7 linked regions of the Homo sapiens genome follow. The protein of the gene in region 6 interacts with the protein of the main gene of each other region in a pairwise test. Each region holds a gene or a part of one and is shown on either strand. Other genes may lie near its edges.

Region 1 (3,500 bases), on a different chromosome or scaffold from region 6:
TGAGGTTTCTATCTGGAGTTTCAGGATGTGTTTATCCTTGTATTGCGAAAAAAAGCCCGTCTCTTGCCCAATCTGCTGTCTCGAAGAGATTCTATACTGGTCGTCTGGGTATTCAGCTTTCCTCTTTTTACAATTACACAGGAGACGATTTAAAATCACCAGACGGGGCGGGGTGGGGGAGACGGCCAGTCTATCGCGGGTGCCATTCGCACTTCCTTCGACCCAGAGACTCGGAGGCTTCCTCGACTGCCTCCCAAACGCCACGGGACGGGGCAGAGCAAGCCTGCAGCCCGGTAGAGCAGGAGCCGCAGCCCCAGGACTCCAAGGGCGCGCCCGAAATGGGGTCCCTCAAGCGACCAGTCAGTTCTCCCTCCAGGCACTGAAGCAGGGCGGGGACAGGTGGGGCGGGGTGGGGGACCGGGGTGCTGTTCTGGAGGGTTTGGTGTGCACGCTCTCCCTAGACGCCGGAAGAAAGGAATAGCAAATTTAACGATCAGCCTAATTGTTAGAGAAGGCACCAACTCCTGCCCCGACGGCTGTTCTCCAGGCTAAATGCGATTCTGTTGTGCTATACAATGGGTGAAGCTGTAGATAAAGCTGTCTCTCTCCGACACTCTCCAAAGCAGCCTGCGCGAGAGGGACCCCCACCCTCCGGGCCGGGCGGTAGTGGGCGCCCAGTATCCCTCCACTCGAACTGGGCTGGAAGGAGGCAGGCGGCCACGGGAAATAGAGCCTGTGGCGACTGCGCTGTCGGATCGCAGCGCCCTCCGGGTTATTAATGGGCCTGGAGGAGCCGCCGTGTCTGCGCCTCAGCGCGGATGGCCTGCCCCGAGAAGGTGGCCTCGGCGCCCGCCGGCGCGACCCAGCCTCCTTGGCCCAGCTTCCCTGAGGAGCCACGGCGACCCCGCGCAAGTGTCAGGCTTATGGCACTGAGCCTGACACCTGGCGAGTCCCGCCTGGCAGACACGGTGAAAGCTGGCCACTGATGGATGCGCCAGAGCGGGGCGGCGGGTGGCCCTCGGGGCACCCGGGTACCTGCCGCCGCCAGCCTTGGCCGCAGCCAGGCCTGTTGGATCACCCTGGATGTGCCCTATCTGCGCTGAAATGACCGAAATGCCCAAGAAACTTGTGAGTCTGTATGAAACGTTTGTGTCAGGAACAGCTAATCGCAACCCAGCATGGTAAGGGAGCCCTCGATTTGCCATTTGCTTCACAGCAAAGGAGGGCTGACTATGTAAGCCTCCTGTCTCACTGGAGGGGGCTCTAGCCAGCCAAACCTTTGCCTCAGTCAGCAGCTACTCCTCTACTCCTCCCAAGAGAGCTGGAAGAATGAGGGCTGCAAGCTTCTCAGAAATGTCCCCAGACCTCTGAAGTGAAAAGCAACAACTTGTTTCGGAAAGCAGAGAAGTGTCCATGCCGCTGGGCCTCCCTTGCACAAAGGCCCTCTTCTGTCCTTCCTCTGCCAGCAACACAAACTATTGTTAAAATTCTCCCAGACTCTGCTTTTGACCCCAGGGCCTGGATGGGAGTATTCTCACACTTATCCATATGTCAACTCCTCTGAAACACACACACTTCACACACCCTCTCAAGCTTATTGATTGTGAAAATAAAAACTTCAAGACATTTTGGGAATTACATGAAAGACAATAAACACAATTACAGTGCATACCATGTGTCAGACACCTGTCTAGAACCAAAAACCAGCATATTATCTAAGTATCATGATTCCCATTCTGCAGATAAAGCAATTCCCAAGCACTACTACTCCACCAAGAACCAGAAGCTAGAAAGTGGCAGAGAAAGGATTCACAGTCAAGGCTGCCTGACTGCAAGGCCTCTAAACCCAGAGATTTTTAAAAGACTAATGAAAGCTGGGGAAATTTAACATTCAAACTCATGACTCAATTGAATTGAAATATTTCACTGAAGTAACTTTGGGGGCCATGAAAATTGCTGTAGCATGATTGAGTTATAGAGGTTTCTCTCTTTCCCACACTCTTGTGTTTTCGGACATTAAAGTAAGAGATTGGATAGGAAAATACATAGATAATGTCTATAATTTTGAATGTTACTGTCTGACTTCAGAGACAGCCTTTCAGCACCTTTGCAAAAATAGCTAAAAGCAAATGACAATAAGCAAAGGCAATATGCCCATGGAAATAGAAATAAGTCACTCCAGGGAGTTACTTAACTGATTTTTTTTTCTGCTTGACTCAATGATGCAAATGGTCAGAAGAGTGTTTAGTTTTCATTCCCTAGCAGCCTGTGCCAGAGACAGTCAACTTCCAACATGCTTCTCCACACGTGTCATCCCATCAACGACATCAGCATAGGTACCAACTCCAGCCACTACCTCCATAGACAAAAAGCACACTTCTAATATTTGTAATGCATGATAATAAAACTGTGGCTAAGGCCTTTCTCCAAGAAGTCCTCTAAAGCCGTCTTCAACTTATTGTTTCATTTGTCTCCATAAAGAGTTGAAAAACTTAATAGTAGCATTATGCTACTATTAAAAGTGAAAAACTGAGGCTCTCCCAATATCTAGAAGACTATCTGTGTGTTAGGTCCACAGCAGGCTAGACAAAGTCAATCAACTTTAATTAGTCCACCCAACAGGGGTCTTCTTAATTTGTGAACCACTTCATGCTATATCAAAATATTCTGCCAGAAAAGTTGACCAACTGCCATCAAGATACATGTTATATTCCAATGTTATTTTTTAATACACAAAATCCCCCAGCTGAAACATTTGGGTTCTAACTTATGTCTGAGTCTCAGGGTAGCTTGAGGATATTAAAAACAAGTAACATTTCTTGGGATTGACAAATATGCTTAAGAAGACAAACATTCTAGCAGAGTATAAACACCTACATGAAAAGGTTTGAAAGAGAAGCAGGCTATATGAGAGGACCAAACTATGTATAAATGTATATAATATATGTCATTATATTATATATACACACACAGAGCATTCCAAGCCAAGCAATACATAATACAACTACTTAGGTTCCTAACAAGGAAGCAAGTAAATGTTCATACTTTCTCTTAAAATCAGGGGAAGAGTTTTTGTACAAGTTCATAATTGTTATTCATAAATACTCTTCTATCTTGAGTAAATCTGTCAATGCTCCTGTCTAAGCGTCTCTGAGTAAAGGAAGGTGCTGTCATTAGGTTACAGACTTGTTCGCCTCCTGGCATCAGAAGGCCAGGCCAAGTGCAGTTAAGAGCAGACTTTCACTCTTCATTTCCTATCCTTCTGTGTTGTTTCAATGTCTTTAAAGTGCAATAGATCTTTACAATATATCTATTTTAAGGTAAAGGCGGCAAAGCAGGCCATGGTTTTCTTTTCTGGAATTTCATTTCTCGTTCTAGGAAAGGTGAAATATAAAACGCTTCCGGGCTTTTGGTGTGTGGAGAGGCCAACAGTCATGTGTAGGCGCGTGGGGAGTGAGAGCTACATCACATCTTCACTCCCCAGTACCTGCCCGACGCCT
Region 2 (3,500 bases), on a different chromosome or scaffold from region 6:
GGAAAGCCCAAGCCATTAGAGATCAACAAACTTAAATAATATCAGTGGCTAGGTTTGTAGGTAATCATACCTTTGGAGAATTTCACTTCCTTGCCCAAGTTGAGTGTTCATCACAGTAGAGGTCAGGGTACAAAGTACCAGTGCATTGAAGGTTGTCCACTAGGTCAGTTCAGGAAAAATGTAAAAACAGATTTTAAATACATGGTACAAAAATAAAAAGGTATAAAAGCATATATGGTGAAAACCAAGTCTGTCTTCTACCAGCCCTTCAGATTCAGTTTCCCTCCTAAGAGGTACTCATTTTTCCAATTTTTAAAAATCAGCCGAGGCCAGGCGTGGTGGCTCATGCCTGTAATCCCAGCACTTTGGGAGGCCAAGGATGGTGGATCACCTGAGGTCAGGAGTTCGAGACCAGCCTGGCCAACATGGCAAAAATATAAAAATTAGCCAGGCATGGTGGGGGGTGCTTGTAGTCCTAGCTACTCGGGAGGCTGAGGCAGGAGAATCGCTTGAATCCGGGTGGCAGAGGTTGCAGTGAGCTGAGATTGAGCCACTGCACTCCAGCCTGGGTAACAGAGCAAGACTCTGTCTCAAAAACAAAACAAAACAAACAAAAAAACCCAGCCGAATTTATAGTAAGTTTCATTCAATTTATCGTTCATAAATTCCTAAGCAATTCTGATCAGGCTGCCATTCTTTTTTGGAAAAGGTGGACTCTCCTGCCTAGCATTTGTTCTCATGTACTTTCAATTCATTTAATGGCAAATTGTTCTTTTCCTAGGAGAGTTGGCTTCCTTTCTTCTGACTTCTGTATCATTCATTGATTCATTCTTTTAAATAAATGCTTATTGATTCTGTACAAGATTCCTAGCACAAAAATAAACAAATAAATAAGTGCTTATTGAGTGTGTTCTAGGTATTGTGCTAGGTGCTGGAGCTACAATGGTGAGTTAGATATAGTCCCTGCTTTTATGGAGCTTACAGTCTACAGTGAGGGACGGATAAATAAACAAACAGTTATAATGTGTTAAGGATTTGATCCTATGGGAACATAATAGAAGGGATATTTAAATCAGGCTTGAGGTATCATGGAAGGCTTCCTGGAGGAAGCAAAAAGAATATAGCAAGTAAAAGGGACCTGAGCAAATATTAACTGAATTAAAAGAAGCTTATTTAGTATGGCAGGATTAGAAAGTCTGGCAAGGGGAGATGATGGAGAGTGTTGACAAGAGAGGATACAAAGAATATTATGGACCACAGACAGCCCTGTATGTCACAGTAAGTAGTTTGGAAGGATAGAGATAAGTCGATGTATTTGAGACCCAGTTAGGAAGTAAACATCAGTGGGAGTTGGTGCCTGCCTGGATGTTGGGAGTGGGGATAAAGGATGATACTCAAGTTTTATGGGTAGATAATGATATATTTGAGGGAAGATATGCATTCAGTTTTACATATATTAAGCTTGAGTGGAGGTATCTGGCAGGCTTTTGGAATGAGATATATAAGCTGCAAATTGAAATCTGGGAATCATAGCCATTGAAAAAGAGGAAAAGACTTGCAGAAAGAGAAGAGGAGCCAGGACATATCCCTAAAGAGCATCAGATTTAAGGTGGTTCTTCTGAAGAACCCTAAAAGGAGACTGAGAAAAAAAGATTAGAGAGACTGAAGGGAAACCAAGGATGTGTGGTACCATAGTCACCAAGGGGAGAGTGTTTCAAGAAGAAAGGAATAGCCGGGCGCGGTGGCTCACGCCTGTAATCCCAGCACTTTGGGAGGCTGAGGCGGGCAGATCATAAGGTCAGGAGATTGAGACCATCCTGGCTAACACAGTGAAATGCCGTCTCTACTAAAAATACAAAAAAATTAGCTGGGCGCGGTGGCGGGTGCCTGTAGTCCCAGCTACTTGGGAAGCTGAGGCAGGAGAATGGTGTGAACCCAGGAGGCAGAGCTTGCAGTGAGTGAGCCGAGATTGCGCCACTGCACTCCAGCCTGGGTGACAGAGCGAGACTCCGTCTCAAAAAAAAAAAGAAGAAAGGAATAATTAGCTGTGTCACATGCTGAGAGGACTGGCACCTGGTCCTTAGGCAGTATGATAAATGCTTACTTTGTGCCATTTTGTAGTAGGTGCTGTGAGCATACACTGATGAAACAACACAAATTCTGCCCTTGAGTAGCTTGCAGTCTCGTAAAGGAAATTAGACATACTGGCATATAGATTATTTTATTTAATGTATTATTACTAAGTGCCCACATTGTTCTAGGCACTGTTCAAGGTGCTGCGGATACAGAAGTAAAAAGAAATAGGGGAGAAGACAATAAACAAATAAATGACATAATGCCAGACAATGATAAGTATGATAAAGAATAATAAGGCAAGAGAATAAAGAGTAAAGAGGTAATAGTGGTTTTTTTGAGGGCTATTCCTGATAGTAGGGTAGTGAGGGAAATCAGCTCTAAGGAAGTAACTTTTGATTAGAGATCTCAGTGATATGAAAGTATGAGCCATCAGAAGAATATTCTTGGTAACAGAAACAGGAAGTATAAAGACTCTGAGGTAGCAATGAGCTTGGTGTGTTTGAGGAATATTAAAGTTAGAGTGTAAAAGCTCCAGGAATGATAGGAAATAAAGTGAGGAGCAGCAGGGCCATATCACACAGGACCTTGTAGGCCACAGTAAGGAGGAGTGGATGGGAGATAGGAAAAGCAGATTGAAGGCTGTTGCAGTAGTCCAGGTGAATTTAAATATAAAACCCATAGGTAGAAATGATAGTCCTTGGCAAGTAATGGAATTGTGGATGGGAAGTGGGAAATCAAGGTCATTGCCAATGTTTGAATATGGGTGATTTAGGAAAATGAGGTGCCAGGAGGAGGAGTTTGGAAGGATTTTGGTTCAATTTTGGATATGTTAGTGTTTCAGATGTTAAAGGGGAATATTTCTGGGTATTTATCATAAAAGTAGATAACTAATAGGGAGTAGAGCAGGACATTAGCATCAGTAAATACAAACTTGACAGGCAAAAGAGGAAGCTGTGGAATGTGTAGCAGTGACAGGAGAGAAGATGGGGTAGAGTTCTTGATTCTACATTTAAACATATATAGTTTCATTCCCAGTACTTAGAATAAGTGAAGGATTTTTTTTTCTCATTCTCTCAGGCTTTCTGAATTTCTCATATTTCGTTTTTATTTTTAAATTTCTATCTCAATCTCTCTAATTCTACTGTTAGCATTAAGGAGTTTGCTAAAGACCTGAATGATAGGGTTGGGAAGGTGAGGGATATGAGGAAGACTGGTTAAGGGATAAGGATCTGAAGTTTGCAGTTTCTTAGAGGGCTAGCAGGGAGAGCAACTGAGTAAATTGGGTCCTGTTCCAGAACAAGGCATGTAGGCATGTTTGTGCTCTGGTTCCCTCCATTTCCCTTTGCTTGCCTCACTGTGTTTACCCAACTACATCCTGCTTTGTGTTAATCCTCATCTCTATGTTTTTTTGTCTTGTCTCATTA
Region 3 (2,597 bases), on a different chromosome or scaffold from region 6:
CTAATGTATTATCTAGAAGTAAGTTGTGAAAGAAAAAAGAGAAACCCAATCTCAAGTTGCCCAACTGATTAGAAATGCCATCTCCTTCCCCTAATACACTCCCTCTCCCTGGGGAGTTTGAGTTTCTTCTGTTGGCTCCTTTGCTGTTTGTGTAAATGCTACAGTATAATTGTCCCCTCCAATGATTCATGCAGCAATCAAGAGACTACCAGCAAGGAAACTCTAAAAGGAATCCTGGAAGTGGAACAAGTCACTCGTAAAGGTGTTTCCATTTTACCAGTCAATGCTAACTGGACCACAGCTAACTTGATCTTCAATGCCAACATCACAGAGCCCCTTTCGCCACCTCAAAAACTGCACAAACATGGACAACCCAGAAACCCAAAACTTTATTGATTAAAACAGATTTTGGATTCTCCTAGGACCTGCTCCAAATTCCATCAAGAAAAGCTCCCTGCGAAGAGAAGTTAACAAGATAACATATGATGGATGCTAAATATTTAAATATATGCCGGCAGCGGTTACATAAGGCCTGCTCAGTTCTGAGATCTATAATTGGGAGGGTCTAACTAGGACAGGGAAAATATAAAATAAAAGTAATCTTCCAGAGTGGAACAAAAAAGAAATATATTCATCCGACAGTCGTAACACCATTCATGTGCAGTGATTTTTTTATAGTTTTATAATTTTGTATTGTTTTATAAATTATTTATAAGGTGTTGTAATGCTTCTTATATTAATTTTTTACAGATAAATTTTTTGCTACAAGGCATAAAAAGGTGCCTGAACCGATTCTTAGGAATATAAATTATACTGTGTAACTCATAAGTCTTTGGGACCACACCTAATGCTTAATTTTATGATGACATTTCTCATGTCTACTTGTAAACAACTTCATATGCCAATGGCGTTTAAGTGTCTTTTATGTTTCCATGAACTGAAGGTTAAGGTTGCCACCCACAAAAAATAAAAGCCACTTTGGGCATATGTGATTGTATTTCAAGCTTCAGTATTTTTCTCACATAATTTTTAATTATTGTTATCTGCATTTTCATTACTTCATGAAAAAATGACAGTGGATATTACATTTTACACTTGTTTATAGATTTTCTTTCTTTTTCAACCAAGAAAATATTTTGAACAATTGAAACTTTTAATTGCATTTGCAAGGTTTTGGCTTCTTTATGTTGTCATCACACAGATGCACACACACATACACATACAACACAAAAGAGAGAACAAAAAAGCAAAAGGAGCTAGGAAAAAAACAAAACAAAACAAGTAGAGGTGTATCAAAGAACTCAAGCTATAACCAAAAAGAAATCGTAAAATGCCTTTGCTCGTTTCTCTACGCTGGACCAAAGCTCAATATTTGTAGGTATATGCACATTGTATAGATATGGCTAAATGTTGCTGACAATCTCGCAATACTAAACTGTTCCTATTTTAAGAAAAAAAAAAGAAATACAAACTGTTCATCAATGTTTTACCTCAGCACTCTACTTGTACCCAGTTAATGACCAAGCTTAAAAAAAAATTGAGATAAAGGAAATTGATTTTCATTTCAATGTTTGACTGTAAAATCTGTTTGGATAACATTTTGTAATGAGCTTTTTGTCATGTGATTTGCTTGTCTTCAACTTGAAATTATGTGAGGCACATTTGTTTATTTGTTGTTAAGAAAGTGATTTTTTTTTTTTTTTGTCCTATGTGCTGTGATCTAGACTGGTCACCGGGGTCACTTATGAGGCACCACAAAGAGATCTGCTTCTCCGTGCCCGGAGCAGGCAGCAGGAGGGAGGGCAGGAAACAGGACTGGGTTGCTTTGGAAAAATCATCATGACAAGAAGTTGACATGATAGACTTGTGACCAAGAAGCCAAACTGAATATTTAAAAGCTCCTTACTTGCTCTGACATTGAAACCAAAGCTGATTTTATCTGCACAGGTTGCTTAATATTTAAAAAAAAAAAAAACTGTACTTAATCTAGAGCAATATCTGTATGGTCAGTAAAGCTGCACTTTGTGTATTTCTTAACAGCTTCAGATCTGTCACTTTTAATTTGTACCATAAAAAATAAATAATTGTTTGACATGAGCTTCTAGGCTAAGTGTGTCTCACACTCAGATATGTCATTTAAGTTGTCAGCATTTTAAAAACTGTACATTAAAACCCCAAATGTTAAGGAAAGGAAGGGGTTCAAGACAGATTGGTTAATATCATGATTATTTTAACTTTTCAAATGACATATTGTATTCATTGGGACTCTTTTGGTTGCAAGTTATAGGAATTCAACTGAAACTTGCCTACACATAAAGGTACTGTGTTGTTTGACTTAATGGGAAGTTCCGTTGTGGACCTGAAGCACAGCTGGATTCAGTGGTTTCAAAGATGTCATCAGCCTGTCCTGCTTGGCTTCCTTCTCAGATGGATTCTCTAACCATTGACTCTAAGGCTTTGAATCATTGCGCCCTTCTCTAAACTAAGCACTGGTGCTGCGGGGTGATGCACATAAATTCATGGTCACAGGCTCATTCCTGTCTGTGGGGGGAGGGTGGGGCCTCACTCTGACGACCCTGTGGGACCACAAGGATTGA
Region 4 (3,500 bases), on a different chromosome or scaffold from region 6:
TGCTTCACTGAAAACTTTTATCTCTACCATGAAACACACCTGCAGCTACTTGCAATGAAACCTCTCCATTGACTGGAATCCTGTCAGCATTAAATACCAGATACATAAGAAAATTATTAAAATATGTACAACCCTGCATTAAAAAAAAAAAGGATTGAATGAATTTGAGTATATTCTGAACTCACCTTGAACCTGGGTTCAAAATTTACTCATGAAAGAAACCTTTATGACATAGTCCATGAACAAAACTGGAAAAGGTCAGAGGGAAACTGGCAAACCAACAGTGTCAAAGATGGTCCAATGTTACCACCACCACCTCTTAGTCTCCAAGCAGAGTATTTAGTTGACTATTTCCATATCTCTCAATCAAATTCAAGTTAATAGACTAGTAGGATCAGAAATACAAAGATAATAATTTGAAAAGACTAAATTTTACTCAGAGTGAAGACCCTGACTAAATTTATTAAGAGCAAGCTTAGTTCTTAATAAGTAAATCAAGTATCTTTAACGCATTAACTCATGGTAGCATCTAAATACTGACCTGAAACCAACTCATAAAAAATTCTGAATGTCATACAAGTTCTCCTATCCTCTACATAAAACTTAAATTTTCACTATAAGGTTTTGAAGAAATAGATGGATTCAGCTTTATACTGAAAATGCCTATTCATTTTAACACTGCGAGAAAAAAGAAAAGTGCCTTTTCATCCTGGCACCTGAAATCTGAATTGTTTTTTTTTAACTGGGCCTGGAAGTAATCTGATCCTTAATTATTGCTTAGGGGAGGGAATAACCCTACAGGCTGAAGATTTCATTAGCAGCCCACCAGTCTCTTGAACATAATGTGGCAATGCTTCTATCATGTGTGTGTGTGTATATATATAGTCTCCCTTCCGTCCCTCCAAAATAATAAATAACTTTAGGTGAAGGACATCAGAAATAGCAAAAAAATGGAAATATGGAAATTATGTGAGTTTTTTTTTTAATACATAGGACATCTAGCCTTTTATGGAGTAAGTCTGCCAACTCCAGTCTAGGTTGTAGAATGCAGAATGATACAGGGAAATACTGAACTGATCCAGCTCCCTCCACTGAATGGCTGTATGTGCTTTGACAAGTCACAATCTCTTTCAAAACTAGTTGCCTCATTTATAAAATGCAAACGCCTGAGTCCCACACCCAATCAAATGAAATTCAAAATCTCTGGGAATGGGGCCCCACACATAGCCTCCCCCAGGTGATTCTAAAGCATAGTGAGGACCGAAATCCCGAGATTAAATGATGACTAAATCTCTTCAGCTCTGCTATTCTTTCTATAAATAACATAGTTTGTAACACTGATTTTTTTAAAAGAACTGCATCCTAAAAATAACCTTCCTCCTGATATAATCCAAACTTAAGTTCTATGTATTTTATACAATTAAAAACAAGTAGCTACAAGTTAAGTCACTCTACAGCAAATACAATCTAAATAAAATTGTGTCAAAATATTTCAAATTTTAATTAATGACAGAATGTTATGGTCTAGGTCAGGAGTCAGCAAACTTTTCTGTAAAGAGCCAGATAGTAAATAGTTTAGGCTTTGTGGGCCACATGGTCTTCTGTTGCAACTACTCAACTCTGCCATTCTAGTGCCCAAGTAGCAGTAGAGAATATAAAAGTAGAAGTGTGTTCCAATAAAACTTTATTCAAAAAAACAGGCAATAGTCCAGATTTGGCCTGTGGGCTATACTTTACTGACTCCTGCTCTAGCTGATACCACAAAACTCTATAAAATAGAATTTAGACTAGATTCAACCTGCATAAATTATTTCTAATTACAGTTGAAATTCTGATACTTCAATCTTTGGCTGTAAAACAAGAGTTGGACACAAACTCTCTGACATAACTGTAAAAAATACTGGAATTATAGCCAAAGTTACATTAATAATATTTATCATACTTAAATACATATAATCTTCAGTGGACAGATGGTAAAATAGAAACAAAATACTCAGGATGCTTATTTAAAACAACTAAACAATGTTCTTAGTTGCCTGAATTACATTTTATACGATTTTATTTTTATGGCCTATTTCTGGTATTCCTACATACTTGCAAGAGATTTTAAAATCTAAGTAGCTTAATTGAGCTCTTATTTAAATAACATCACCTTTCCATGTATAGTAAACTGTTCATATTTCTACAGGTACTAAGAGTACACTGGAATTACGTGTTACATATAAATGGAGAGGTGGAGGGAAGGGGGAAAACTTGCACTAAGTCGCCTAAGAGATAAACTGATAATGTTAGTAAGACAGCTTTGTATTAAAAACTTTTTATACTACAAGTTACTGCAGAATCATCTACTGTAAGTTTTATCTCCCCACCAGAAAACTGAAATGTTGATTTACAATATTAATGTAAAATATTTAAAAATAAATAAAACAAATGTTGTTTCCCCTAATAAAAACTTAATACCTATTATATCAATGTACTACAAATCAAGGAATTAAGAACTTAAAGTTTAATGAGTATAGAAACAAAAAACCATGAGCCAACTCCCTTTCAACACCTGCTCACCTGAATACTGAATACCATACTGTTGAGGCTGCTGAGGTGGAGCCTGCGGCTGCTGTGCACCATAGCCGGCCTGTTGCTGGTACTGTTGGTACATCTGACCTGAAAACACACACACACACACACAAGGAAAAAAGGCATGTTTAATGTGGCAAAGAGAAATATTTTTAAGATACATATACATTCCCTCTCCATCCAAACAGAGTAACAATATACAAGAAAGTATTTGTTCAACTTTAAATGTCTATGAAGAAGAGAATGAACCATTTTAGAAGTGTGATTCCTCTGCTGTGGATTAACTGCAGAGAACTAACTGGCAATAAACATTAAGTGCAACACCAGTGGCTACCATTTCATAAAGTCTAGAAAAACAAATGTTTTCCAACCCAGCTGCCAACAGATAAGTAACGCTAATGTTCATTAAAAGCCAAGTGAGTTGAAAATCAGTAAATAAAAATGAGAAAAGGGACAAATACCATTTATATCATCTAAGTCCTTCCTAAAGCACTGTATTTGCCCTCTAAAGGTATGGGCCTCTATTACCATATGAACAAACTCTTTGGTAGCAAGGAACTATATGACATCTTTTGTTCCAGAGCTGAAAGACACTTTTGGAATTTGTCAAGTTTGATTTTCTATGAATATCCAACATCTTTTGCCAATAACGTGGACTCTAATAAAGTCTAAATGGTTCTTCATTGCACTATTTAATAATGGCAGACCTTTTTAACAACGGTGATGTGTTCTTGAACATGGGAGTCCTATTTGTCCTATTTGGGGTCAACAACCACTGTTCCTATGAAGAAACCCTTTAGACACTTATTACCTATGATTTTTCTTTTTACTTTTTATTTTTCTGTCCTCACAATCTGTTCCCATACCTGTGATTTTCAAGCAAAGATTTATTGGTTTATGTCTTTATTATCTCTACTTCTCAATTA
Region 5 (3,500 bases), on a different chromosome or scaffold from region 6:
GGAAGGCTGTGTGTGTAAAGGCTTTGAAAAGCTTTTGATGCTCTACGAATAAGGCAGGCCAAATACTGAAATTAGGAATATGTCAAGATTTGAGAGCATTGGGCATGGATTCCATTATATTTCTCCTTTCTTGCCGAAAGACTACAAGATGCTCTGCCTTCCCTATCAGTCAATAACATTACAGCTGAGTAACATCAGTAGAGAAAGATAAACTTAGAAACTGGAATGATCTGGCCCGTTTCTAAAAAGCAAGATTTCATAAATGCTGATGGAAAACATGGTTCTAAGCATTTGCATTTCTGAATTCCAAAAGCTCAATATTTTGTGTTTTCTCTGTGGTTTCTTCACCTTCTTTGGTTAACCTAGTCACCCATTGTGAAACAAGCAATAAGAACAAATATATCCATCACTAGTTGGTGTTGGCCATTCCATATCAAGGAGACTAGTTATAGTTTGGAGACTTTTTTCCTTCTGTAAGGAAAATAGATTATCATTCAGTACCAAAGAAGTCAGAGTTAATCATTCACAAAAATATATAGCCCTTCCTTCACACCTCACCTTCTGTTCTTTTTAAAGCTCTGTCAAAGAAAAATTAAAAAATAAAAATATTTTGAAAATTATTTCATTTTGTTGTCTAATTCTATTAGGAAACAAAGCCATATTGAATAAAGACTTATTACCCTTAAAACATCAGCAAAGACAGGCTAACATTAAATTCCCTGGACAGATAGTTTTATTTGATGAAATAAATGCCATGCCATCTGTCCATTTGTTAGACAGTCTATTTACTTCTTGATCTAACACAGGATGCATGTAGTACTGAGAGGACGGATTTTATAGTTTCATTTTGTTCCTTTACTTTTAGACCAGCAAACAAAATGGAAGGTCATTAAAGAAGAGAGCTCAAGACTTTCTGTTAAAGTGGAGTTTTTTTGGTGCTCGAGTAATGCATAATCTCACCTTGAACAATGCATCCAGTTTTGGTAACATACGTGCATTATAAAACTGTTCTTACATGAATTATATAATTTGTTCCTCAGTCACAGTTCCTGTCAATTTTTAAACATGTTACATCATCACTTCTTAAACTGTATCTGAATATGGAGCTATGAGAAAATGGTATTTATGAGCCTGGGTTTTGGAGTCAGACCATAAGCAGGATTAAATCCTAACAATGATTGTCTCTGGCTATGGGCCAATCTGCTCATTGAAGAAGGGGAAGAATATTCTCTTCGAAGGGTTGTATAGGTACTTTGGTGAGATGATGTATATAAAAACAAATTGCCTAGCACTCAGGAAATGCTTAATGCATAGCAGCTATTATCATTACATTCCATCAGTGCTTGGATAAATTTTCTTTGTTAAACAAATGATAATTAAGACATTATTTTCCAAAGTTATTATTCATTGCAATACGGCAAATTTCTGCAGCTTTTCTGAGCACCCATATAACTGCACTCCAGGAATCAAAAAACAGCTTAGAAGACACACTGTCATGTTTCTGACCCATCTTTCCTGTTCTATATGACTTGGGAGACAAATAGGGTTAAGTTAGCTTTTTATAAAATTGAATGCCTTCTTTTTCCTTAGAATTCCTGAGACTCCTATTTTATAGTTATAATGTTAACTCATGAGTAGTAACTCTGCATTTGGTAGCTGCATTTCAGGAAATCTTCACATTATGAAAGAGATTACAATTAACTAAATTGTTTTTATTTAATGTTCTATAGAATTAAATAAAATCAGTGAATTTGTATTGAAGAATAAACAAAACACATTGTCTATTATTTGAAATAGACTTCCCATATTTAAAGTTTTATAAAATATACAGCATTGAAGCCTGGCCTTACTACGAAAAATACTTTTGTTGGAAAATCTATTGAATAGTTAAAAGAAGTTTTAGTTTTCCAGAACATATTTCACTTGAAAATTACTCTTTTAGTTTTTGCCAAATCTAAGAATATTTTGTTTCAGGCTAGAAAGATATCTCTTTACTTGACTTTTTTCAGACCATGTTGGCCATTGTCTAATTATTTAGTACAAAGTAAACAGAAATAGAGCAGAGTAGAGCTCATTCTCCCCAAGTTGAAGCTTATCACACTCCAATGTGTGCCCTCTTAAAGCATAAAGCATGTCTCACTTTCATCCGTATTTTCCTTTGATGTAATTAGTGGCCAAAGAGCTGGCAGGACAGTACACACAGTGAGCAGGGCAGGCAATACACAGAAAGATTAGAGATCCAAGTTAAGCATGTTGGTCTTAGCAGGTCATTTAAAGTCCAACAAGTATTTGTTTATTTCAGTTGCTCCTTGTAAAGTGTTGCGAGATGGTCACAAAGATAACTGACTTCTCTTTCCCTTTCCTTCTCTTTCTCTCCCCTTTTTACATTTCACACTGTCCTCTCCTCATTCTCCATCCATAAACAAGGTTCTTTTCATTTGATTCGAATGCTTCTCGATGAATACATTCTCCTGGCCATGGAGACCCAGTTTAATAATGACAAAGAGCAGGAGTTACAGAATTTATTGGACAAGTATATGAAGAATTCAGGTAACTTAAAATAACTGTTTTGTTTTGCATATTTCTTTGTTTTAATCTTAAGTTCAAGAATTTATAAGTTCAGATATTAAGTGGGTTTATCATAATCTCAGAGTTTTTCTCCAAACATGTCATTACTAATTCTCACCATACAGTCACACTATTGGAGCACTACTTTTCTTTCATTCATTGCTATGTAGTCAAAAGTACTTTACTGGAAACTCTGAAGTATACAAAATTGGTGATCTTAATTTCTGGGAATTAAGGTGAAGTTGGAGAAGTGACTATAATACAAAAAATAACTGTAATTCAAGACACATGTGGTATACTACATATGTAAGTGGTGTAAAAATAAGTTCTATAGGAGTTTAGAGAAGGAAGGAAACACATCTATTCAGGATAGGGCAACTTGCATTTTGAAGACTTCACTCCAAACTGGATTATTTAGTGCTCCTTATCTACATCCACATCCGCAAATATGCAGCTAAAAAAAACCTAGCATCACTGTCAAGAGCAAAGGTCTGCCAACCTCACTTCCCATGGGAAACATTGCTTAGTAGTTTCCAGATTAAATACTCAACAATGAAACATTTTCATTTTCTTTTTACTTGGGTTTATCTACGAGGAATGTGAGAAAAAATCTCAAATTTCCCATTTTAAAAACTCTTTCCAGATGCGAGTAAAGCTGCTTTCACTGCTTCTCCGAGTTCATGCTTTCTGGCCAACCGTAATAAAGGGAGCATGGTTTCCAGCGACGCTGTGAAGAATGAAAGCCACGTGGAGACAACCTATCTCCCTCTGCCATCCAGTCAACCTGGAGGCCTAGGCCCTGCTCTGCACCAGTTCCCTGCTGGGAACACAGACAACATGCCGCTCACAGGTACGCTAAAGAGAACTGCTTAGGCTCCAGCACATCTCAGAGAAGCCTGTTGCTTCATTTTTCTTAAAACTCATAACTTCCA
Region 6 (3,500 bases):
GAATCTGGAAGGCAAGATTCATTCTGAAACGGCCATAACTGAAGTACGGCAATTCTATTTTTGTCACATTTTAAAGCACAAAAATTTCTGCTGTCAAAAATGTATCAGATGGGGAAATGCAGTGAATGAACTTTACATGATGAAAGAGAATATCACTCCACAAGAAATACTCTGCCACAGCAAGTCTTTGATAATAAACATCATGACAACAGCAAACAAAGACTAATGAGATGACATGGGAACCGACACTAAACAAACATGGCAGGGAAGCAAGAAGTATCTTCTCAAACATCTCCATCTCCTTTCAGCATTAAAAGCAGCATGGATTTCAGGAAAAGTAAGACAAACTAGGCACACACGAAAAGACTCTTGCTTCCTCTGCTGGGTACTGAAGGAAACTATAAAAGAAAGCTCATCTCACTTAGTCTCTGCATGAAGACATCCTGGAAATACCCTCAAAACATGAGTCACTTCCCTTTGCCAATTTCTGACAAAAAGGTGAAGATAACTATAATAGGAAGATGTCTTGTGCAAGTATGCGTTAAACAGCTAAAACCTGATGGATTGAGGGCTGGCCCCATGACAGGCAGAAGTATGACTGAAACCCTAATACCTTCTCATTACTGCAGAAATACTCTGGGGAACATATATGATCTATTGACAGTGGTGCGGTGGGGATAGAGGGATGTACAATAGCACAAAAGCATTGGATGCTTAGAGAAAATATGAGATATTTGGCCAGGGAGTTTGTCCTGCTGTCAGACTTCTAACAAGAAAAAGTTAATTCTGTCACTTCAGCAACCAACCCCAGTGTAAAAACCACAGGCTTGTATATTAATGTTTATGTATGTATGTGTGTATATATATGTGTGTGTGTGTGTATATATATATATTCTTTGAGACAGGGTCTTGCTCTGTTGCCCAGGCTGGAGTGCAGTGGTGCCCGATTATGGCTCACTGCAGTCTCAACCTGTTGGGCTCAAGTGATCCTTCCACTTCGGCCTCCCAAGTAGCTGGGACCACAAGTGCACACCACCATTGCCCAACTAGTTTTTGTATTTTTTATAGAGACGGGGTTTTGCCATGTTGTCTAGGCTAGTTTCAAACCTCTGAGCTCAAGCAATCCACCCACCTCAGCCTCCCAAAGTGCTGGGATTACAGGCATGAGCCACTGCGCCTGGCCAATATTTTGCTTTTTAAATGGGTTCCACTTATAAACCATATGCTACAAAAGAAAAAACCTTAAGCTTCTCTATGCTTGTCCAAAGCAGTCTTTCCCATCATTTTATTCCCAAGGAATAAGAGTAGAAGACACTGAAGAATATGCTTGGAAGTTAACAGAGGCAGTGTGGAGTGACAGAAAGAGGACAGATTCTGGAGTCAAAGACTTCTGAATCTTAGCTCTGCCACTTACTAGTTGGAAGAGAAAATAAGAGCACCAAATCCAGTCCACATTACTCATACATTAATATTTACTTACCTTGTCCCCTTGAGAAAGTAACTTATTCTGAGCTTCCAACTCTTTGCCTGTAAAACTGAGGTGCTGCCACCTAACTCACAAGATTATTTATGAAAATTAAAGTGCCTGGCATATAGTATGCACTCAGTTCCTTCTCTTTTCTTACGATCTCTCCTCCTAACATTGTTTCCAACTGAACCACTGCACTTTCTTGTCCTTCAAACTCCAGTAACATGAAGAAACAACATGGAGATTTTGGAGCAGCAGCTACTGTTGTATATAGCAGTACAGCCACGGTACAACATATGTTCATTAAGTAGGCGTTACAGACCTATGATTCCCTCCCAGTTTTCTCTGGGGTTTAAATCTAGTCTTCTACATACCCAGCCACATATTTACATGCTCATTATTAAAATTCCTTACTCAGTCAACAGATATCCATACAGGGAGAGAGAACATGTCAGTGGAATTATTAGACTAGGAATCAGGAAACAAACGATCCACTTGCTTCATTATCAATTCTTGTAGAGCTGGACTCTGAATCACCAGGTGGAAAGTCTAGACCAGCACTGTCCAATAGATCTTTTTACGATGATAGAAATGTTCTATATCTGTAATGTCCTGTATGGTATCCACTAGTCACCTGTGGCCACTGAGCACTTGGAATGTGGCTATTGTGACTGAGGAACTGAGTTTTAAATTTTACTTAATTTTAATTAACTTAATATTGAAATAGCCATGGGTGGTTAGTGGCTGCCATATTAGATACTGTGGATGTGGAACACTTCCATGACCAATTAACATTAGTCAGACATTAATATTTATTTACCTTGCCCCCGTTCCATGGACACTGGTCCACTTCCTGGCATTCCAACCTGAGCCTGCATTCCTCCTAGAAGATAAAGGGCAGACAAGAAAAAACACCAATTAGAACAGCGGAAAAGAAAAATTAGAACAGTGGCTGAGTTTACAAATTTCCTCATTCTGCTCCACAAGCAGAAACCTACAAAGGAAGATATTCAACAATGCAATGAGAGAGAAGATGGGGTTTGTTAGTATATTTACAATTTGTACTTTATGTTTCAGTGACAGAATAGTGAGTTCAATAAGAATAATTCATTTCATTGGTTACCAAACTCTTGGCAGGAAGCTCTTCTATAATACAGGAAAACAATGTCACTTACCCATGGACCTCCTGTCATGAAAGATAATTTAAATACAAGTATAACTCTATTAGGATAAAGTAGATACATAACAATCCTAAAGTAGATACAAAAAATTCCTGAGTTTGCAGAAATTTCTTCAAAAAATCTCTTCTTCCATTCCTCATCAACTTAGCTCTGCAGACTGGATTCTCTACAGAACAGAACAATTTAGAATTAAATCATTCTCCATGAGTAGTGTTGTACTCAACCTACCCTAGATTAGATAAATTAACAAAAACCAAGTTTGTTACATAAAAAAACTTTAAATATTGGTAATACATCATGTGTTCATACAGATGTTTCATATGGGGAATCATTATTTCACTCAATCTTCTTAGTTACAATTGTTGAACAAGGAACAGTTACAAGTATATGAGCAATACTCTTATTAATTGCCGATCTATACATTTTCAATAAATGTACATAGCTTTTAAATTTCTCTTTTTCCCTTTTGTTGTTTGTTCTGATTATGTTTGTTAAAATACAATTTTATGTCAGTTTAATATGCTATAACAAATGTGACCTTGTATTTTTTTGTCTGTTTTCTTCATGAGCTTTTGAACCTAATCTGACAGTTCATTCATATTTAGCAGAGTAACAACTACATTAGTTTTTATTCCTTCCATCTTACTCTACATTTATTATTACTTATTTTACACTGTCTCTTACTTTTTTCCTCTTCTCTATTTTTGCTGGCTTGATTTTGTTTCCACTCATTCCATTTTCCCCCTTGTTAACTTGGAAGTTTTACTATGCTCTTTCACTTTACTGTCCCTTTCCCTGTTCTTATAATTAGACATACAGGATTTAACGTAAGAAATCTACTATTTCCTCCA
Region 7 (3,500 bases), on a different chromosome or scaffold from region 6:
TCCTGGAATACAGTTACCTGTTCCTTGAGGCTCTTTCAATCTACTGTCTATTGTTTCACCAGCTTTAATTGTTGGAGAAAAATCCTTTCTCATACTGAGCTGAAATCTGCCACATGTAACTTCCATACTTTGGTCCTTGTTCTGCCCTTTGAAGAAATATTAACTGAATCTAGTCCCACATGGCACCCCTTCAATACTTGAAAGTAGTGTGGTCCTAGTTAAGTCTTCTGTCTCCTTTCCAACCCCCCAAATCCTTTCTTGCTTCTTACTGGAAATAGTCTGTAGTACCCTAGTCACCATCCCCTGTGGAAGAGCTTCAGTGGCAGGTCCAATTTAGAAGGTGGTAGTACTCAGCATGGGACATGGTATTGCCGGTATGATCTGATCAGGACAGAACAGTGTGGCTACTGGCTTCCTCAAATCTAGGTACTGTGCTGTTGTTCACTTCTAAGAATGTGGCCCTAGATTCCCTCAGTCTTTTGGTATATACCGTAATACAACGTGTTTGATCATTTAACTAAAAATGAACTTTAAAAGCATAGTTGATATTGTCTAAGATGCTTAGTAGTACCATCTTGGTATTTGTATTAGTGTTTTATTTCAGTACAAACTTGCTTTGATGTTGATTTAAGCTTGGCCTCTCATGTCAATTTTTACCAATTTTAAGATAACATTACTTTTTTTTTGAGACAGAGTCACTCTATCGTCCAGGCTGGAGTGCAGTGGTGTGATCTCAGCTCACTGTAATGTCTGTCTCCTGGGTTCAAGTGATTCTCATGCCTCAGCTTCCCAAGTAGCTGGGACTACAGGCGTGTGCCACCATGCCCAGCTAATTTTTGTATTTTTAGTAGAGACGGGGTTTGCCATGTTGGTCAGGCTGGGCTTGAACTCCTGGCCTCAAATGATCCACCCGCCTCAACCTCCTAAAGTGCTGGGATTACAGGCATGAGCCACTGCATCTGGCCTGTGAGTTACTTTTTGATAATATCTTACACTGCTATTTGGGTAGTTTAATTGGTGCTACTTTTCCAATTACTTAATTAAATCAATATCTTTTTTAGATCCATATGTCAAACTTCTGCTTGATGCTATGAAACACTCAGGTTGGTAAGTAACTCTTTTTGAAGTGCTGCTCTGAGGTCTGGCTGCTGAAAACAAAAACCAAGTTCTCTTCTTAAGAGAACTGCTTAAGATTTCTCTGAGGTCACAAAGTCTTTTCCATAGGGTAAATAGAGGTAATTGGCTGCATTGTCTCCGGGCTGGCCTTGTTCTCTTTGGACATTTTCTGCCCTAACTCATGTTTTTTTTTTTTTTTGGGGATAGAGTCTCGCTCTTGTTGTCCAGGTGGGAGTGCGTTGGTGCTGTCTCGGCTCAGTGCAACCTCCGTCTCCCAGGTTCAAGCAATTCTTCTCCCTCAGTCTCCCAAGTAGCTGGGTTTACAGGCGCACGCCACCATGCCCGGCTAATTTTTGTATTTTTAGTAGAAATGGGGTCTTAGCATGTTGACCAGACTGGTCTCGAACTCCTGTCCTCAAGTGATCCACCCACCTCGGCCTCCCAAAGTGCTGGGATTACAGGTGTGAGCCACTGCGCCAGCCCAGCTCATTTTCTAGTTCTTACCATTCACCTTGGGTGATTAATAAAGACAGTACTCAAAATTTTCTTGTAAGTAATTACCAAGCCTGGCCTTTCTGCTACACCAGCCTGAGCACTGTTTTTAATGGAAAAGAAATCTCAGCTTGTTATGTAGGAACCTTGCAGATGTTGTATAACTTTGAGGGGTTTAAAGGAAGTGACTTCTGACATCCACTTCTTAACATTCTGGCCCAAGGGCAGGAACTCCAGCATACTTGCAATATGGCCATAATCAGTTGAACAAATTTTTTTTTTTTTTTTTTTTTTTTGAGACGTAGTTTTGCTCTTTTTTTTTGCCCAGGCTGGAATGCAGTGGCACGATCTCGGCTCACCGCAACCTCCGCCTCCCGGGTTCAAGAGATTCTCCTGCCTCAGCCTCCTGAGTAGCTGGGATTATAGGCGCCCACCACCACCCGGCTAATTTTGTATTTTTAGTAGAGATGGGGGGTTCTCCATGTTGGTCAGGCTGGTCTTGAACTCCCGACCTCAGGTGATCCACCTGCCTCGGCCTCCCAAAGTGCTGGGATTACAGGCGTGAGCCACCGCGCCTGGGGGACAAATGTTTTATGGAATCATATCTATAGAATTTGAACTAGAATGGATTTTGTGTACAACCTCCTTATTTTACAGGTGAGATAACAGTCCTGAAGATGTTGTTTCTTTCCCAAGATTTCCTATGTGTTAGTAGTAGAGGGGATTTACTATATGGTGGAGGGTCTCCTGAGCCCTGGCCCAGGGCTGTTTGCCACATACACACTGTTTCTGGACATTGTCTCCTTTTCTTGCCTTTTAGTGCTGTTAACAAAGATAGACACTTTTCTTGCGAAGACTGTAATGGAAATGTCAGTGGAGGTTTTGATGCTTCAACATCTCAGGTAGGCATTATTGCCAAATTGTTTCCTTCCCTTTAATCCTCTCTCTTTATATTTTTTGAGCATCTTCCACATGCTCGGCATTCTGTTTGGTAGACTTTATGTAGGACTAAAAAAGTGAATTAGTTATCCTTACTCTAAGGAGTTTACTCTTAAAATCTCTTAAGGAGTTTACAGCCTTACAGGAAAGATAAGACATGAACACAGATAATTATAAAATGAGGCAAGCTAAACCATTTTAGGTGGGCTTGGTTACCACAATGGAACAGTGATGTGATCGATTGAAAGATGCCAACAGATTCGACTAGAGGATATAAAGCCTCCTTAGGGGCAGAGCAGGGACAGAGCAGGGGCAGCATGAGCAAAAGTGCATGCTACGAAACTGCATGGCATGTGTAGGGAATGGCATATTGTCTAGTTTATCTGGAGGGCAGGAACATGTGGGGAATGAGGGAAAATAGGATTGGAAGGAAATGTAAGCCCTATGGTGGGAGGTTTTGAATGCTAAATTAAAGGGTTTTTACCTTTACGTGGTGAGAATTGATACTGCCTGTGAAAATTTTTTATTAGGGGAGTTTTCTAATCTGTACAATTTGGGCAACGATTGTATCTATTTTATGGAATGATTATGAGAATTAAATGAGATATCTCTTATAGAGTTGCTTATCTTAGTGCCTGGCCCATAGTAAGCATTCAATAAATTTTATTATTAGTTTTAAGTCATCAGAGAGTTTCGACAGAGTCTTGGAGGTGGTAGATAATGTCATGTGATCAGGGTAAATGATGGTGTTATAAGTAACTGTTTCCCACTTGAATGTATAATTCATACTTAACTACACTTAACTGTTTCCTGCTGGATAATTTTGTATGTATTTAGGTTATTTATAGCATTTTTACAGTAATCATGTGAAGTGGCAATATAGAACAAGGATGAGAAGTCTAGATTTTGGAGTCAGACTTGAGTTCAAATCCTAGTTTCCTTGCTTATTATCT

The links.
Region 1: the proteins of CSTF2 (region 6) and PRDM6 interact in binary tests that used the Homo sapiens proteins (3 or more experiments, as listed by UniProt).
Region 2: the proteins of CSTF2 (region 6) and USP54 interact in binary tests that used the Homo sapiens proteins (3 or more experiments, as listed by UniProt).
Region 3: the proteins of CSTF2 (region 6) and POU6F2 interact in binary tests that used the Homo sapiens proteins (3 or more experiments, as listed by UniProt).
Region 4: the proteins of CSTF2 (region 6) and TFG interact in binary tests that used the Homo sapiens proteins (3 or more experiments, as listed by UniProt).
Region 5: the proteins of CSTF2 (region 6) and RFX6 interact in binary tests that used the Homo sapiens proteins (3 or more experiments, as listed by UniProt).
Region 7: the proteins of CSTF2 (region 6) and ATP23 interact in binary tests that used the Homo sapiens proteins (3 or more experiments, as listed by UniProt).

What each region holds. Positions count from the first base shown.
Region 1 is NC_000005.10:123,095,741-123,099,240, reverse strand, and holds part of PRDM6 (putative histone-lysine N-methyltransferase PRDM6), read right to left. Parts: intron 15-3,500; exon of another isoform or gene 1-14. UniProt on the Homo sapiens protein: Putative histone methyltransferase that acts as a transcriptional repressor of smooth muscle gene expression.
Region 2 is NC_000010.11:73,500,843-73,504,342, reverse strand, and holds part of USP54 (ubiquitin carboxyl-terminal hydrolase 54), read left to right. Parts: intron 1-70; exon of another isoform or gene 71-159; intron 160-3,500.
Region 3 is NC_000007.14:39,466,505-39,469,101, forward strand, and holds the end of POU6F2 (POU domain, class 6, transcription factor 2), read left to right. Parts: 3' UTR 1-2,097; downstream 2,098-2,597. UniProt on the Homo sapiens protein: Probable transcription factor likely to be involved in early steps in the differentiation of amacrine and ganglion cells. Recognizes and binds to the DNA sequence 5'-ATGCAAAT-3'. Isoform 1 does not bind DNA.
Region 4 is NC_000003.12:100,743,994-100,747,493, reverse strand, and holds part of TFG (protein TFG), read right to left. Parts: intron 2,662-3,500; coding exon 2,563-2,661; intron 1-2,562. UniProt on the Homo sapiens protein: Plays a role in the normal dynamic function of the endoplasmic reticulum (ER) and its associated microtubules. Required for secretory cargo traffic from the endoplasmic reticulum to the Golgi apparatus.
Region 5 is NC_000006.12:116,922,242-116,925,741, forward strand, and holds part of RFX6 (DNA-binding protein RFX6), read left to right. Parts: intron 1-865; coding exon 866-983; intron 984-2,427; coding exon 2,428-2,550; intron 2,551-3,211; coding exon 3,212-3,418; intron 3,419-3,500. UniProt on the Homo sapiens protein: Transcription factor required to direct islet cell differentiation during endocrine pancreas development. Specifically required for the differentiation of 4 of the 5 islet cell types and for the production of insulin.
Region 6 is NC_000023.11:100,826,891-100,830,390, reverse strand, and holds part of CSTF2 (cleavage stimulation factor subunit 2), read right to left. Parts: intron 2,352-3,500; coding exon 2,289-2,351; intron 1-2,288. UniProt on the Homo sapiens protein: One of the multiple factors required for polyadenylation and 3'-end cleavage of mammalian pre-mRNAs. This subunit is directly involved in the binding to pre-mRNAs.
Region 7 is NC_000012.12:57,944,567-57,948,066, forward strand, and holds part of ATP23 (mitochondrial inner membrane protease ATP23 homolog), read left to right. Parts: intron 1-1,061; coding exon 1,062-1,107; intron 1,108-2,159; exon of another isoform or gene 2,160-2,194; coding exon of another isoform or gene 2,195-2,265; intron 2,266-2,428; coding exon 2,429-2,510; intron 2,511-3,500.